3 linked regions of the Homo sapiens genome follow. The protein of the gene in region 1 interacts with the protein of each later gene in a biochemical or structural test. Each region holds a gene or a part of one and is shown in the gene's direction. Other genes may lie near its edges.

What was found.
Region 2: the proteins of UBE4A (region 1) and SLA form a complex in vitro, tested with the Homo sapiens proteins (one study listed by BioGRID).
Region 3: of the proteins of UBE4A (region 1) and GZMB, one has a biochemical effect on the other in vitro, tested with the Homo sapiens proteins (one study listed by BioGRID).

What each region holds. Positions count from the first base shown.
Region 1 is NC_000011.10:118,357,684-118,361,436, forward strand, and holds the start of UBE4A (ubiquitin conjugation factor E4 A), read left to right. Parts: upstream 1-1,916; 5' UTR 1,917-1,991; intron 1,992-3,753.
Region 2 is NC_000008.11:133,039,930-133,043,682, reverse strand, and holds part of SLA (src-like-adapter), read left to right. Parts: intron 1-3,552; coding exon 3,553-3,685; intron 3,686-3,753. UniProt on the Homo sapiens protein: Adapter protein, which negatively regulates T-cell receptor (TCR) signaling. Inhibits T-cell antigen-receptor induced activation of nuclear factor of activated T-cells. Involved in the negative regulation of positive selection and mitosis of T-cells.
Region 3 is NC_000014.9:24,632,613-24,636,365, reverse strand, and holds the start of GZMB (granzyme B isoform 1 preproprotein), read left to right. Parts: upstream 1-2,175; 5' UTR 2,176-2,205; coding exon 2,206-2,260; intron 2,261-3,017; exon of another isoform or gene 3,018-3,264; intron 3,265-3,290; coding exon of another isoform or gene 3,291-3,303; coding exon 3,304-3,451; intron 3,452-3,753. UniProt on the Homo sapiens protein: Abundant protease in the cytosolic granules of cytotoxic T-cells and NK-cells which activates caspase-independent pyroptosis when delivered into the target cell through the immunological synapse. It cleaves after Asp.

The sequences.
Region 1 (3,753 bases):
TTAAATATATCCACAATGTGTAGCCATCATCACTACCCATTTCAGAAATTTTTCATCCTCCTAAACAGAAACTTGGTACCCATTAGACAATAACTCCCATTCGCCTCTCCCTCCAATCCCTGGTGACCTCTATTATACTTTCTCTCTCAAGGAATGTGCCTATTCTGTGTACCACATATAAACTGAATCATACACTATTTAGTCCTTTCTGTCTGGCTCGTTTCAGTTAGCATAACGTTTTCAAGGTTCATCAATGTTTCAGCGTGTATCAGAACTTCATTCTTTTTCAAGGCTGAATAAGTCATCTGTAGCTATATACCATATTTTGTTTATGCATTCATCTGTTAATGAACATTCTGGGTTATTTCTACCTTTTGGTTATTATGAATAGTGCTACTGTAAATATATGTATACAAGTATCTGAGTTCCTGCTTTCAGTTATTTTGAACATCTATATCAAAGCGGAATTGCTTGATCATGTGGTTATACTATGTTTAACTTTTTGAGGAATCATCAAACTGTTTTTCCAAAAAGTCTGGACTATTTAACATTGCCATCAGCAACGCATACGGTTTCAATTTCTCCACATCTGCCAACAATTACTTTCCTTTTTTTTTATAGTAGCCATCCTAGTAGGTATTAAGTGGTATCTCATGATTTTTTTTTTCATTTCCCTAAAGACTAGTGGTGTTGAGCACTCTTTCATATGCTTATCCACCATTTGTACAGTTGGCCTTCCATATCTGTGGGCTCTGCATCTGTGGCTTCAACCAACCATGAATTGGAAATATTCCAAAACAAATTTCATCTGTATTGAACATGTACAGACTTTTTGTCATTATTCCCTAAACAATACAACACTATTTAGATTTATGTTGTATTAGGTATTATAAGTGATCTAGAGATGACTTAGTCATCTCTAGGATGACACAGGAGGATGTGCATAGGTTATATGCAAATACTGCATCATTTTATGTAAGGAACTTGAGCATCCTTGGATTTTGGTACCCAAGGGGGTCCTGAAACAAATCCCCCACAGATACCAAGTGGATAGTCATTCTCTTGGAATGTATCTTCTTTGGAGAAATGTCTATTCAAGTCCTTTGCCCTTTTTTGAACTGAACTGTTTGGGGGTTTTTCGTTCTTGTAGTTCTTTACATATTCTAGAGATGAATCCTTTATCAGATATATGAGTTGCAACTATTTTCTCTCAATCTGTGAATTTTCACTTGCACAGCGCTTTTAACTCTTGAAAATTATGCTGCTTCTATTATTTATGTGTATCCCGATCTCTTGCCCTCGTGACCCGCCCGTCTCAGCCTCCCAAAGTGCTGGGACTACAAGGCGTGAGCCACTGTGCCTGGCCATCTATGTGTATCTCAAAACAACCTTGTAGGATGTATACTGTCTCCACTTTACAGATAAGAAAACTGAAATCCAATCAAAGATAGCACACTCCAAAGATTGCTCCAAAGACAGCACAACAATAACAAACTTGTAGTTGTTATTGCTGTTAGTGTTATCCCTTTGAATAATAGAGAGTAACAGAAGCTGCTTCAAAAAGGTCTAGGACTGGTGGGAAAATAAGAGAGCAGACCCCCAACAGAGGTTGCGAGCAGAGCCAGGGATCACAGAGTTTTATCTGCCCTCGGTACGCTGATTTCCAAAACCCAGCCTCATATTCTATACTCCAAAGCGCACTGCCAGGTGGGCCAACTCCAGCCCCCACAATCCGATGCCAAGGCCACTTCTTGCCACTTCCTGCCCGCCTCCAGCCCGCCCCTAACAAGCTAGCGCATGCGCTGTAGGACTATTTGCGCGCCGTTCCCCCCGGTGAGCCTGCACACCGTGCTTCCGGCGCGGAGATGAACTTCCACATGCCCCGGCGCTTGTTGATGACGTAACTTCCGGTTGCTGTGCTGAGTCGGAAGTGGGAACCCTTCGGCCGCTGAGATTCTGTCGTGTCGTCGCTGCTGGCACTTCAGGCTCTGGTAAGACAGGCAATAGCTTCAGGGGACGGGGTCGTTGACTTTGCGTTGTGATATTTTCTGCTGGTCCAATGCCACTTCAAGCCTGTTCACTCTTATCTTCTCCAAATTCCTTCTCCTATGCTTTGCTAACCAGGGACCTTCTCCTTCTTGAACTTCGACCCTGTCTGATTTGGAACCCCTTACAGTGCCCCAGCTTCTGATGTCTCTTTGTACATTTCTGTCCCCATCTTTGCCAAGCCCCTCCTGGAAGAGGCCGGAGCGCTATCATTGCATTATCTTTTGACTTAACTTTCTCTAGAACGTGCCCCGGGCGGGTGGATCTCCCTCCTTCCCGCGAATCCCTTATGGAGCATGGAAGGATAAAATATAAAGAGTAGATAACAAATAGGCAGATGCCAAGAAGATAAGATTAATCGTGAGTCGTAAGCAAACCAGTTCAATGCATACGTCAGGGTGTTGATAATTCTTAAGGCAGGTGATGAGTTCACCACAGATAACTCTTGGGGCACTCTGCTTCATGTTTCCTTGGGTTTAGAAGACACTTCTAAAATTGAGTGACCATGCCTCATGACCTTATATTTGATGAGCCTTCCTTTTAGGATCAGTTTTATGCCCTGACAGCAAGCATGTGTTTAGTCTCGCTGTCATTTACTGTTTTGGTCTCACGTGGAAGCCCACCTGCGATAAAATGGGATCCAAGAAGGACTGCTGTCTGCTTTTTGACTTGAGATCCTTCTAGGCTGCAGATAGATGTGTTGATGGAATTTGTTGCCACATTAGCATGGCCTGATAGTGTTAGGTGAAACATACGACAACGAAAATTGTTTCTTAATTTCTATTTTAAATTGATATTTTAATTTCTATTTTATATTGATATATGTATTATTTGCCAGGACACAGACCTTATGGGAGTATGATTTGATAGAGCTTGATTTTGACGATCCCAGTTTTACAAAGTGTTCCAGATATTTCTGTTGAAAAACAATACCAAGTCTGATGTTAACACACTTGTGTGTTCATGAGAGCTGACAGTGGTCTTAAAGGATTAGTGGTACTATTCATAAACAAAAGCTTGTATTAGGAGGAAGTGACAGAATTTTGTAGGACAGCTATTATAGATATAGATCTTTGCAGCAAGTGTATCAGAGTGAAACTTGTTTTCAAGGAGGATATATTTTAAAAGAATCAAATCCAAAAGCTTCTAAGGTTGGTAGCTGTACCATCCCAAAGTGTCTGACAACAGGATAGTGTTGTATCTCTGTATGGCAGTTGAAAATAGGAAAAAAAATACATACATATATGTATGTATATATGTGTGTGTGTGTGTGTGTGTATTTTTTTTTTTTTTTTTTTGAGACAGAGTCTGGCTCTGTCACCCAGGCTCTGCTCTGGAGTGCAGTGGCACGATCTCAGCTCACGGCAACCTCCATCTCCCAGTTTAAAAGTGATTCTCCTGCCTCAGCCTCCCAAGTAGTGGGATTACAGCCTGGCTAAGGTGTGGTGGTATGCGCCTGTAATCGCTTTTAGTGGAGACGGGGTTTCACCACATTGGCCAGGCTGGTCTCAAACTCCTGACTTCAAGTGATCTGTCTGCCTTGGCCTCCCAAAGTGCTGGGATTACAGGCATGACCTACTGCGCCCGGCGCTGAAAATAGGAGATTATAAATCCCGAATGACATTATTGAATATTAAACAAAATATTTAGGTTTCATTTTATCGGACCTTTAGAGTGGGTGATTATCTGGGTACTCTTACTTTGGTA
Region 2 (3,753 bases), on another chromosome or scaffold:
CTGCTCAGGAGAGGCAGGTCCAAGCTCAGATTTGCACCTTGTGAGGCCTTGGGCAAGGTCAGCTACCCCTCAGAACTTGGGGTCCCCATTTATGGGAGGTGGGTGAATATGGGCTCCTAGCAGGTGATTATTAAACACAATCGTTCATGTAGTGCGTTCAGCATAGCCTGTCACATAGCAGATGCAAAATAAATGATAACACATATTACTTGTGATATCCGAAAACTTAGCAGCCAGGTAAAAACGAAAGAGGAAGGGAGTCCTGGAAACAGCCAACTTATATTGGTTATGAGAAAAGGTTGGTTGTGGTATTTGGCTTTTAATAACAACCATCGGAGGGGGTGTGGAGACCATAAGTTTTGCATAGACAAAAGCAAACATGAGAAGGATGCTGTCCTAGCAAAGCTTCTAGGGACCATGAGGCCATGAGGCTACCAGGCCAAAAATACCGAAATCTAACTGCCGCTGCTTGACCATGGGGAATATCTCACCCCAGTGCAGCACTGGCGCCTTCCCGCAGTATGTTCCTGGTCATCGAACCACTCAATGGATTACAGTCATCTGTTCACCTCTGTGAATAACTGAAAAGGGTAAAAACCGGAACTGTTTCCTATGCCCCTTGAGAATCTCCAAGTGGGAGCCACATGGCCACTTTTATCTCCACTGGATTCACTCTAAAGACACAGATGGGCCAGGCATGGTGGGTCATGCCTGTAATTCCAGCACTTTGGGAGGCTGAGGTGGGCGGATCGCCTGAGGTCAGGAGTTCGAGGCTAGTCTGACCAACATGGTGAAACCCTGTCTGCACTAAAAATACAAAATTTAGCCAGGTGTGGTGGTGGGCGCCTGTAATCCCAACTATTCGGAAGGCTGAGGCAGGGGAATCACTTGAACCCAGGAGGCAGAGGTTGCAGTGAGCTGAGATAGTGCTGCTGTACTCCAGCTTGTGTGGCAGAGCAAGACTCCATCTCACAAAAAAAAAAAAAAAAAAAAAAAAAAAAAAAGACACAGAATGAGAGGAATTGTGCACCAGGGGTTTGAATTGACATCTAGCAACAGGTTGCTTATAATTTTCATCATGATGCCTTTAGGCAAATTACTTGGCATCTTGGAAGCTCAATTTTTTTACTTACAACATGGGGATTAAAATGCAATAATTTTCACAGGATTGCCACTAGTCCAGTTAAAAAAAAAAGATGCATGTGAAAAATGTGGCACCTAAAGTATACCATGCATGGTGGTTACTGAGAGAACAGAGTGCATGGGGCATACATGAATTCTAAAATATGGCTGGGAAAATCAAGGGCTGGGGACCTTGAGGGTCTAGGAACCCTTCAATATAGAGCTGTTGGACCCTAAAGGTGCAGAGGAGTGTGCATTCTGATGAGCCATGTAGACAGAGGTGAATTAGACCAGGGGGTCTGAACCCAAGAGACAGCTGGAGGATGTCTTTCTTCTTCATTTAAGAGGCAATGAGTTGCTTTTAGAATGAGTCAATAAGATTGATTTTGGTCACATTTCTACGGCCCTGAGTAAGTTACTTCATCTCGGGATGCTCAGTTTTTCCCTCCCCAAAATGGGTATAAAAACACTGACAGCCGGGTGTGGTGGCTCACACCTGTAATCCCAGCACTTTGGGAGGCTGAGGTGGGTGGATCATGAGGTCAGGAGATTGAGACCATCCTGGCCAACATGGTGAAACTCCATCTCTACTAAAAATACAAAAAATTAGCCAGGTGTGGTGGCATGCAACTGTAATCCCAGCTACTCGGGAGTCTGAGGCAAGAGAATCACTTGAACCTGGGAGGCAGAGGTTGCAATGAGCCAAGATCACACCACTGCACTCCAGCCTGGAGACAGAGCAAGACTCCGTCTAAAAAAAAAAAAAAAAAAAAAAACTGACCACAAGCTGATCAAGGCCTCAATGAGATCCAGGGTACGAGGCTAGCTCAGTGCTGGGCTCATGTTATGTGCTTATGAGTGGTGGTTCTTTTGCTCTTTGTCAAAATGTATTTTTCACCCTGAGTATTAACCTGTCTAAGGAAGGACACTCACGGAGTGTCCCCTGCCTGTGCTGCACACTGCAGCTGATCTCTCCAGCCTTTGCATCTGACTTCATCTTCCTCGCCTCATATCCTGGGAGGTCATTTCAATTTCCAACCCATGACAGGTCATTATTTCAGATTCCCACCCGATTAAATCTCCCTCTAAATTCATGGTCTCACCTCCCATTTCTCCAAGGGCACCTGTGTGGGTGGACATTTGAGTTCACAGTTGAAGTCGGACTGAAAACCATGAAACGAGGTCTTCCTGGCTTGCCCGCCCTGTGACAGACTGAGTGTGCTTCTTCTGCTACAAATTCCTTTTGTTCTTTGGCAAGGATGCCCCAGAGAGCACTCCATAAACCCGATGGGAAGTGGGGCCTGTCAGAGGTGTGACGTGCTGTCGAAAACCTGGTGGTGGATTGGCTCTGAGGCCAGGGGTGGCTTAGCCCTGCCGGAGGCCAGTGGCACCTCACCCCCTTGACCACATCATCTCCCCCCAGGGCACAGGAGAAGCACTGGGGTTTTCAGCCTGAGTAAGACTGTGCAGAATTTCCTCAATCTCTAAGATGGCTGAGTACAGCAGAATCAAGTCTTTCTCATGATAACATGGGCTAGGGAGAAGCCTTCCAAGAGACGGAAGCTACATCGTAATGTGCCTGGAAAGATGGGGGATCCTGAGAGTCAGACATTTTATACAGAGATTTTCATGCAAGAGAAAAAAGAAACGGGTTTATTTAACTTTTATTCTTTTTGTGCGTGAGCTTCTAGAGTGAAAGAGAGATTGTCTTCATTCTTTGTCTGCATTCTCTTTGCCCTCTTTATCTTTGTTTTCTCTTCCCTCCCTTCCTGTGTCTTCTACTTTTTGTGCTATTTTCACCTCCTCCTCTTCCTCCTTCTCCCTCTCACTTTTGCTTTTCCTCCTCGCCCTCTTTCATTCCTCCTCTGCTCCCTCCCTCCTTTCCTTCCTTCTTTCATTGTTTCTTTTATCTTTCTTCCTAGAGATCTATTTAGTCCACCTGTTCCATTGTAAATGCACAACTGGGGGGATCAGCGCTGTATGCAGCCCCATTCTCACACCCTGTGAGGTTAATGGATTGGGCATTTGCGGGAAACCCTGGAAGGCTGCGGCTTCTGCAGGCACTCACTTGTTGCTTCATTTCTTTCATTCTGCAGTTGAAGAAAGGAAAGCTCAGAGACGTTCTTGATAATTTACTATCGGGGTAAAGCTAAAATTCAAACCCAAGCTTGGTTGATACTGGATCTTAAACCTCTCTCTCTGCCCATGCCTGGCTAAGTGCAGAGTATACCAGGGCACGCTTACATTTCTCAAACAGCTGGGCGCGTGACTTTCAGCATTGTCACCACCTACCATGCCCCTTTGAAATCTCAGGCCCAGTTCCCCATGGCAGCAGCCAGGGAGCTGCACTGGAGAGTGTCTCAGGCCTGAACCCCACACTGGCTGAGGCGTCCCCAGGGTCCCTGACCGGCTGTCTGCTTCCCTCCTCAGAGGTGGCTGATGGCCTGTGCTGTGTGCTCACCACGCCCTGCCTGACACAAAGCACGGCTGCCCCAGCAGTGAGGGCCTCCAGCTCACCTGTCACCTTGCGTCAGAAGACTGTGGACTGGAGGAGAGTGTCCAGGTGAGTATGGTGTGTGTATGTGTGTGTGTGTGTGTGTGTGTGTGCATGCAAGTGCTCTGTGAACATGT
Region 3 (3,753 bases), on another chromosome or scaffold:
GGTTCCTTAAAAAATTAAAAATAGGATTATTGTATAACTCAGAAATTCCAAAAGTATATATATTTGGTATATATCCAAAAGAACTGAAAACATATTGTTCATGCAGAAATTTGTACACAAATGCTTATTATTGCTGCATTAGCTACAATAGCCAAAAGATGAAAACAACCCAAATGTCCATTGACAGATGAACAAATAACTTGTGGTATAAACATACAATGGGAATATTATTTTTCCATTAAAAAGAACGAATACTGGCATGTGCTACAGCTTGTATGAATCTCAGAAACATTATTACAAGTGAATGTAGCCAGCCACAACAGGTCATGTATTGTGTGATTCCGTTTATATGAAATATCCAGAGGTGGTGGTTGCAGATTTTGAATGTGCTAAATGTCACTGAATTGAATACTTTAAAATGGTTAATTGTATGTTATGTGAATTTTACCTCAATTTTTTAAATGGGTCATAAACTTATGTTTAGCATAATCCCCTTTTAATTTTAAAAAATGCAGATATTACATGAGAAAAAATGTGCTAGAGCATATTTCAAGACATTAAAGATGGTTATCAGTGAATGATGAGAAATTAGGTAATGTTTATTATTTTCGCTTTGCTAAAATTATTTAAAAATTACTTGCATATTAAATTTTTTAATGCCTAGGAAAGAAAGACTATAGTTGTATTGACTAAGATTTCTACGAGCATGGGGAAAATGCTTAATTTGTAGGGTTAATCAAGGATAAAATAAATTGCATTGTATGTACAATGTGATCCCAAGTATTTAAAACACACTGCTTATGGTAACAGTCAGTCTGTGGGAGACAGGTTAAAAAGTGATATTTTCCCTTCCTACTTTCCAAATTTTCTTAACAAACATATATTATGACTATAATCAGAAAAAATTATTTTTAAAACGTCTACTATGGGGCAAGCTAGGTTCAAAAAATAGAAGTTTGATAAATGTAGTTGGCTTGCTATTGACAAGGAAGACGTTTACACTGGAATTCTATATTTTGAGATATACCATTCCTCATAGAAAAATTTCCTCACAGAAAATATAAAGGTGGAAACAAATCACAAGAATCGAACCATGTAGAGAGACTTAGTTGTCTTTTAACAGAATTGGGCACGGGCTGTTCAGAAACAACAATCTTTCACATCCATTATAATGATAGCATTAGTGTAGTTTGTTTAGCAAATGTTTACTGTGAGCCTGTTATGTGCTGAGCCTGCTATGTAAGAAGTGTGGCTCTCTGGACAGGAGACAGAATACTAAACAACACAACTACTGATCTTTGGCTGCCTGGCATGCTTCCTCACTTCATATGGTATCAGCAATTTAGCACCACAAACGTCCTTTAGAGAACCAGCCCTTTCTCATTCTTGGTTCTAGTGGCTTGAGTAGACTGACCCCAGCCTACCCAAAGTGGATTTGACTCCTAGCAATTCATTAATCTAGCCCAATAAAATGTCAAGTACAGGACTTTTATTGAAAGCATTCAGAAAAGAGGTGGACTCTCACACTAAACATTTGTAACTAAATAAGGGATGTTAGAAATTCTCTAGAAAGGAAGCTATGATAATAAATGGGTTGCTAGATGGGTCTAGTAGATGGTGGCCATGCTTTGTTACTGCCTTGTGTATTGTGCTACCATAGCCCTCCCCAAACTGTACTCTGGCTCCTGGCATTTCCGTCTCTTCAACCAGATGGTCAGCTCTCTAAGTGAAGGAGACACATCTCCAACATGCTTGGTTCTAGCACAACAGAAGGGCTCAAACACATACCTGCTAAAGAAACTATCCTGATGGATTTAGCAGCATGGCCATGAGGCATTGGCGGTTCTATCACTGGGAACTCAGGTTTCTGGTGCTCCAGTACCTCTACTGGCTGATACCACATCCTACAATTCACTTCATAGGCTTGGGTTCCTGCTCTGGGCTGAATAGGTGGTCCACTCTGAGTCATCAGCTGTGGGTGATGATGTGGTCACTGCATGATTCTCACACAAGCACCCAGAGGACGTCATCAGGCAGAGGCAGTGGGGGTGGGCAGCATTTACAGAAAATCTGTGATGAGACACCACAAAACCAGAGGGGAACATGAAGTCACTGAGCCTGCTCCACCTCTTTCCTCTCCCAAGAGCTAAAAGAGAGCAAGGAGGAAACAACAGCAGCTCCAACCAGGGCAGCCTTCCTGAGAAGATGCAACCAATCCTGCTTCTGCTGGCCTTCCTCCTGCTGCCCAGGGCAGATGCAGGTGAGTGACCGTCTCCACCCTCGGGGGCCCAACCCCATCCCACAGGTCTCCTGCCCTTTCTCCACATTCCTGATCCATCTATCTACCAGGAATGTTCTGAACTCCAGCTCCCATTCTACCAAGACCCCCCAAGTGTGATGCTGGATAAGCTATCAGCAGGAATGGCAGAGCAGCAGGCCATTCTCAAGAAGAGCCAGTGGGTACTATCCCTTCCCCAGAGCCCACCTTTGTCACCTGGAGAGTAGGACTTTCCTAGAAGTAAATGGCAGAGGATGGGAAACTAGAAAAGAGAAATATTAAATTATTCTAGAGTAGGCCTGGCTTCTGTTTCTGGGATAAGACAGGTGCTTCTCTCACTGTCTACTTAGGAGAGAAACCCAGAGCTCAGCTGACAGCAGAATTGGTACAATCACTGTCCTCAGAACACTGTTAATGTGTTTGCTCAGTCCCATTCTCCAACTCTGCTTTTCTTCCCTGGCCTTTGGTGGCTCCCCTCTTTCCAAGGATGAGGCACTACGGCAGGCCCCAGCTTCCCTGCTTTCTAGAATTCCACCAGCACTGCTCTACCAGCCCTCATCCAGAGGCTAACTGGAGCCAGTCCATCATGCAGCCATGAACATTTACTGGGCACCCACTACATGTCAGGCTCTAGGAAACAGGATATGACAGTATCTAGATCCCTCCACTTACACCCTGGCCATTAGAAAGCAGCACTATCCTAGACACCACAGGACTCATAAGGGTCTTGGAAACTCACCTGAAACAAAGCAAAGTCAGGAGAGGAATGATCAGGAGCCTCTGGGATTTCACTGTCCCTAAGACAGGTATGCTCGCCTTCAACTACATATGGAAGAAAGATTTACAGACCAAAGTCTGCTGTTCTTCCCTTTTTCAGAGCAGGAAATTGAAGCCCCTTCCTCCAGGCCACTCCCAACTCCAGGCTATCCCAGGCTCCCAAATGCCCAGGAGTTCTGGAGCCACTAAGCAGGTGCCCACCCAGCAGATTCCATGGGTGCCCACAAGCAGACAGACTTTTCCTTCAGGGGAGATCATCGGGGGACATGAGGCCAAGCCCCACTCCCGCCCCTACATGGCTTATCTTATGATCTGGGATCAGAAGTCTCTGAAGAGGTGCGGTGGCTTCCTGATACGAGACGACTTCGTGCTGACAGCTGCTCACTGTTGGGGAAGGTGAGGAGCAGAAAACAGCCCACACCCTCCTGGAAACACTCCACAGAGACCCCTGCCTTCTTCCCAAGGAGCTCCCTGGGCTCCTGTGAACACACATGCCAGGAGGTCTCCTTAGAGGGTGAGAAAAGGGCAGTTAAGTTTGTGGAGAGAGGGGAAGGTTGGTTCCAGAGGTGCTGCTGAAGTAAGAAACAGCAGAGTGACCAAGCCTGCCATATTTAGAACTGGGGGCATACTTTGGCATAGAATACAAACTGAAGCAATTCCACCTGTGTTTCTAGGGGGAACCGAACCCTGAGAAACCT